2 linked regions of the Homo sapiens genome follow. The protein of the gene in region 1 purifies or fractionates together with the protein of each later gene. This does not show direct contact. Each region holds a gene or a part of one and is shown in the gene's direction. Other genes may lie near its edges.

The links. Proteins that work in one complex are often made in the same cells at the same time.
Region 2: the proteins of FOXN2 (region 1) and RPS6KA3 purify together in Homo sapiens (affinity purification with western blotting; one study listed by BioGRID). This does not show direct contact.

Annotation. Positions count from the first base shown.
Region 1 is NC_000002.12:48,376,739-48,379,795, forward strand, and holds the end of FOXN2 (forkhead box protein N2), read left to right. Parts: 3' UTR 1-2,557; downstream 2,558-3,057. UniProt on the Homo sapiens protein: Binds to the purine-rich region in HTLV-I LTR.
Region 2 is NC_000023.11:20,165,910-20,169,409, reverse strand, and holds part of RPS6KA3 (ribosomal protein S6 kinase alpha-3), read left to right. Parts: coding exon 1-8; intron 9-1,662; coding exon 1,663-1,821; intron 1,822-3,500. UniProt on the Homo sapiens protein: Serine/threonine-protein kinase that acts downstream of ERK (MAPK1/ERK2 and MAPK3/ERK1) signaling and mediates mitogenic and stress-induced activation of the transcription factors CREB1, ETV1/ER81 and NR4A1/NUR77, regulates translation through RPS6 and EIF4B phosphorylation, and mediates cellular proliferation, survival, and differentiation by modulating mTOR signaling and repressing pro-apoptotic function of BAD and DAPK1.

The DNA of each region.
Region 1 (3,057 bases):
AGAAACAATAGGATGCTAAACTAATTCATTGTATCTTTTTTTTACAATGGTGGAAGCAACTTTCTGAAAGTTCAGTCTTATGCTACATCCTAAGTCATAGACAATGACCTTGTTTTCATTATTCTGATAGATTGTATACATATGTACACATACATATACACATATGCACAGTCAAGGTCATGATGTTGATTTGCTTTCAGCTGTTTCTGTGATTATAAAGCATTTTTTAAGAGACAAATTTTAACTTTTAATTTTTATTTTGGCAAAACTGTCAAATGAGAAAAATGATTTTAAAAACTTTTTTTTCAATTGACAAGACTTTAAGTCAGGGATAACAGTATTAATGTTCTCTGTTCTGTTTCCATGTTAAATTTAATTTAACCTGGATAGCCACATTAATGAATTGGTGCTGTCAAAATATAGTAATTTTTAAATTTGTTAATAATGAAAACCCTTAAGCATGCAGGATGAGGTATTTGGGTTTTTTTTTTAGATCGATCACATCTACAGAAAATGGCTAAACCAAGTTAACTTTTATTATAGACAGTGAATAAAACACCAAAAACCCAAAAATGCTTTAACCACAGTATAAATAATAGATTATACACATCATCTTAATAACTATTTTTAAGTTATTTACCATAGCCTCTGTATAGACCTTAGGAACAGTGTTTCAGTGATCTGGCACCAGTTTATTTTGTTCTGCTGAAATTCTGTATCACAAATGTGCTACCTGGTTTTTGTCCATTAGATAATTACTCTTTATAAGGAAAGGAAAGAGAAGCAGAGTTAGTTCCAGCTCTAATAGGGATCTTCAAAGTTATTTTGTCTTGATGTATGTAACAGTAATTCTTTACATCTTTTGATTTTTCTCTTCCTTTTTATTCACTCTTCCCACGAATTTAAATGTTTAAGTTATATTCATCACTAGCAAGGATGATAAACACTTGTGCACTGAAAGCTAACAGGGAGAGGTTACACAATATTTTACAGTTTCTTAAACATAATTTAATGCATCACCTTCCACTTGCTAACATACCAAGTCAGTTATTTTCAAGGGAAGAACCTTTTAAATTATGGTCCTCCATTTACTACTTCCACTGAGAGTATGCTCTCATTCCTCAGGTGTTTTGAGAAACATGACTAATAACCACACAATTAAGTAGAGTCATTCCAAGTCCTATGGCCTGGAAATTGTATTCCCTATAATATACAAATTTTCCTGTAATAAAGTCAACTTAGAAACTCCAAGGAGGTTACATGTTTTCCAACATATCCTAAAAACTGTGATATAAGCTAACATATAATTTGCCTTACGTCAAAAGAATATGTTTTGTTGCAGCTGATTCCAGTTTATAATAGATCCCTAGTAAAAAGCTTTGATTCAACACAATTGTTCATCTTCACATCCCAAACAGAATCACTGTTTCTTGAATATATATTTTTGAAGTTTTTTTGTGCAATATATTACTAAATCAGTTATTATTTTACTTTTCCAAATTCAGAGAAAGAAAACAGATTACCTGAATTCATGGAAAAGGTGGATCACCTCCCTTTTTCCACCTTCAAGCCTTTCCTGTCCTCATAGCCAGCATGACTTCTTTTAACTTGGATTCCTTTGTATATAGTAAAGTTTAGTATATATATATTTTTTTCTTTTTGCTACTTTCTGAGGCATTATGTAAAGGGCTCATACTAGATGTTCAGTTAAATATACTTTAGCACAAAGTCAAACTAGAGAATGTGTTAAGGAGGGAATGTATATGTCTTGGTAGACCAGGAGGCCTTTGCCAGCAATTTAAGCAACAGATGTGAATACTTCACAAAGCTGTAAAGACCATTGTCTTAAATACTACAACAACTTAACACCCTTTTGTGAAGATCACAGCATTTATCTAAGAAACTGTGAGGCTTTCTGGTTTACATATATCTTACAGGTGTTTTTTTGTATTTTTTTTTTTTTTTAGTTTGAAATGTGTAAGCTTTGATTTAAACCAAGTTTACTTCAGTATGTTAATGATGTAGTAAAAATATTTATTGAAAGGTGAATTCGAGTATTTTAATGTTATACCTGCCATTTTTTTTCTTAAAGCATATTCTTTGCATCTAACTGCCAGTGCCATTGTCAAAACTTATTTTTTAAATCGTTGTACATTTCTTATTAAACTAAGTGCTTAATTTTAAAGTATTATGTTGCCATCATATAGTGTATAAAAATGTATAATTGCCAATTGATTGTAACTATTATTTATTTTTAAATGAAAGTGTAAGAATGCTTTCTGATTCAACAAATTTGTTATCAAACTGTTTCCTTATCCTCTTTTCTGATGTAGCATAAAAATTGTCCCGGTTTGAGTTATAACTGCCAGTAGATGACCAGTCACAAGTGAACCACTTCTCAGTTGCCAATCTTTGCTCATATTAAAAACAACTTACAAATACTTAGTTTTTGTATCTAATCTCTGATTATTAAAATGTTTATAAAGTTTATTTTTACCAAAGAGATGCAATTCATTATGAGAAAGTATTGCATAATAAATTTTGTTTTATAACTTTTTTTGTGCTTTCTCTGATCTTTTGTAGGATAGGGTGGGACAGGAGAAGGATGGTAGGGCAGATGTGATGGCTATACTTCTACACACACTTTCCATTCAAATTGGAGTCAAGGAAATGAAAAATGCAGTTTAATTTCAATTTTTTTAAAAGTATTTTTTATGGTTTTTAGATGTTAATTACTGAAAGCTAAAATGACATTAATTAAATTACTATCTTCCTAAAGTTAAACTTCTTTTCCTATTAATTTACATGTATCTGAAATATTTTGAAATATAACTGGGAAAAATGGAGTAGAATATGAAACGAGCCTGGCCAACATAATGAAACCCCGTCTCTACTAAAAATACGAAAATTAGCCAGGTATAGTGGCGAACGCCTGTAATCCCATCTACCCAGGAGGCTGAGGGATGAGAAATGCTTGAACCCAGGAGGCGGAGGTTGCAGTGACCTGAGATCCCACCACTGCACTCCAGCCTACACAACGGAGTGAGACTGCATCTC
Region 2 (3,500 bases), on another chromosome or scaffold:
TAAAGGATGTAAGTAGATTCTTTAATATGGATCATTTGAATCAGTTGTCTAACTCACATTGAAAGTAGTGTATTTTCAAAAATCATGTGGTAGACAAAGAACTCATCATAGGCTGGGCACAGTGGCCCACGCCTGTAATCCCAGCAGTTTGGGAGGCCAAGGCAGGAGGATCACTTGAGGCCAGGAGTTCAAGACCAGCCAGGTCAACACAGTGAGATCTCCATCTCTACAAAAAAAAATTTTTTTTTAATTAGCCAGGCCGAGCACAGTGGCTCACACCTGTAATCCCAGTACTTTGGGAGGCTGAGGCAGGAGGATTGCTTGAGCCCAGGAGTTCAAGACCAGCCTGGGCAACATAGGGAGACCCTGTCTCTAAAGAATATTTAAAAATTAGCCTGACATGGTGGCTCATGCCTATAGTCGCAGCTACTCTGGAGGCTGAGGTGGGAGGATTGCTTCAGCCCGGCAGGTCAAGACCTCAGTGAGCAGTTATCGCACCACTGCACTCCAGCCAGCGCAGCAGAGCAAGACCCTGTCTCAAAAACAAAAACAAAACAAAACAAAATTCAACATGGTAAGTTTAAAAAGTAGATTTGAAAACAATTTATATGTGTATATGGCATAATTTCATTTATCAATAAAGATATGTTTGTACAGTTATTTTTTTCTACTTTTGCTTTAAGAAGAAAAGTACTTACGATATTATTGCTTTTAATATCTGCACTTACTTGAACACTTACCTAAATGTTCAGTGTTAATATTACTATTAGTTCATATTCAATATTGACTAGTCTCACTCTCCAGACTACCCCAAAGTATCTTCCACATTACTAGAAAAGAGATCTAACACTCATAACTACCCATTTAACTTCCCTGCCTACAGTCTAAAGTCCCCAGCCGCTTAAGACCCTGCCTTCCTCTGTAGTTTTCAGACTTCTCACACACCCTTTCTCATACACCTGATGCTCTGTGTTCTAGTATGTAAATTTCTTGCGCATGCCTCATTTTCCATGCTGTTATGTCTGAATTTATAGTTCCCTCAGTTGCCAACACCATCTATTTTCTTTACCTGGCTAACTACCACACATATAAGATTTTGCTAAGGCACTGCTTCTTCCAGGAAGCCTGCCCTGCCCATTGCCACCCCCAGGACAAGTAAAGTATCTTTCCCTGGACTGTCATGATAACCCTGTTGCCTATGTCTCTCTTGACTTTTATTATAACAAAGTGTTGGCAAACAGTGTGAACTCCCCAGGTAGTGTTAAGTCTTCTCTTGCTAATGATGCTCAATAGGCCCAAAGGCCTTATCTGGGGGTTGTCAAAACTCAAATTTCCTCAGATTATCCCTGCTCATGGAGACACAGCAAAAGCTCGTCTCTACAAAAAATGCAAAAATTAGCCAGGTGTGGTGGCATGCGCCTATAGTCCCAGCTACTTGAGAGGCTGAAGTGGGAGGATCGCTGGAGCCCAGGAAGTGGATATTGCAGTGAGCCAAGATTGTGCCAGTGCACTCCTGGGCGACAGAGTCTGTCTCAAAATAAATAAATAAATAAAATTTGTCTTGAATATGAAGTGAGTTTAATTTTTCCTTTATATTTTAAACTTCGTTTTGGGCACATATAGTTTCAAATAATATTTACATTTTGATGTTGAAATTTATAGGTATATGATGATGGAAAGTATGTGTATGTAGTAACAGAACTTATGAAAGGAGGTGAATTGCTGGATAAAATTCTTAGACAAAAATTTTTCTCTGAACGAGAGGCCAGTGCTGTCCTGTTCACTATAACTAAAACCGTTGAATATCTTCACGCACAAGGGGTAAGTCTTTTTACCACTCTATATGTACATACACACACTTTTTTCCTTTATGTTTGAGCTAGAATTAGATAGAAATTACTTTATGCCTGAAATGGAAAATAACTGCTATTAGCTGAATTATCCTACTGACCTTCCTCTATATAAACTTTTATTATTGAGATTGAAGTGTACCTTTGATATCCTAGCTTGTTTATGTTAAACTCTTGTGCTTCCAAGAAAAAGTAAGTGATCTCTTCCGACCTGGAAAACATAGCATTGTTTCTGCTAGGTCACTCTGTACTCATGAAAACCAGGCCCACTTCAGGTTAGAAGCAGAACCAAGGAATCCTGGTTTGTATTCATGTATAAAAGGAAATCCTTAAAACAATGAGGCCAAGGAGTCACATGCTTCGGCTGGTGGATATGCTCTTCGTTCTTCTTGTATGCAGATTTTTAGTAAACAGCAAAAGAAAATTGTATTTCTAGGCTGGGCACGGTAGCTTATGCCTGTAATCCCAGCATTTTGGGAGGCCGAGGCAGGCAGATCACTTGAGGTCAGGAGTTCGAGAAAATCGTATTTTTAAAACAAGGCGGCCGGGTGCAGTGACTCACGCCTGTAATCCCAGCACTTTGGGAGGCCAAGGTGGGTGGATCACCTGAGGTCAGGAGTTTGAGACCAGCCTGGCCAACATGGCGAAACCCTGTCTCTGTTAAAAGTACAAAAATTAGCCGGGCGTCATGGCTCATGCCTGTAATCCCAGCTACTCAGAAGGCTGAGGCAGGAGAATTGCTTGAACCCGAGAGGCGGAGGTTGCAGTGAGTTGAAATTGCACCACTGCACTCCAGCCTGGGCAACAGAGTGAGACTCCATCTCAAAAAAAAAAAAAAAAAAAAAAGAAGGGAAGTCTGGGAGGAAAGGAGAAAATGAGGGGAGGGAGGGAGGAAAGGAGAACAGCAGAGGAGTGAAGCAGAGGAGCAGAAAGCAAGGGGAAAATAAACAATTTTTTAAAAATTTTTTAGTTGACAAATTATGTATATTCATGGTATACAACATGATGTTTTGATACATGCATATATAAAAGATTACTTCTTAAGGAGTTCAGTTTCAATACATTCTTTTTGTTTTGTCTTTGCCCCTGAAAGCCAAGTAGAATGTGTTAATTCTGGAGCTTCCTGACTTCTAACTTATCAAGATTTGCCTAGTATTGTAACTTGAAATTAGTAGAACTCAGTAGTCACTGAGGAACTTATGACCTTGCAGTCATCAAAGTCTTCTGTGTTCTTTTCCCAATGCCTCATCAGTAATTCGTTATTAAAATAGTCTGGAGAAGTGATGTCCTGGATGTGAGGAACTAAATCTAATTTGATTGATTGGAACACAGACTCAGAATTTGGTGACAGAAGGCACACTTAAGTCTAAAAAGGAATGTCAGAGAAGCTTATGATAAAAAAGTACAGTAGTCCCCCACTAATCTGCAAGTTTGCTTTCTGTGGTTTCAGTTACCACAGTCAACCATTGTCAAAAATATTACAGTATTTTGAGAGACCACATTCATATAACTTTTATTACAGTATATTGTTACAAGTGTTCTAATTTATTATTAGTCATTGTTAATCTCTTACTGTGCCTAATTTATAAATTAAACTATATCATAGGTATATATATCTAGGAAAAAATATAGAGAGACTTCGGTATTATC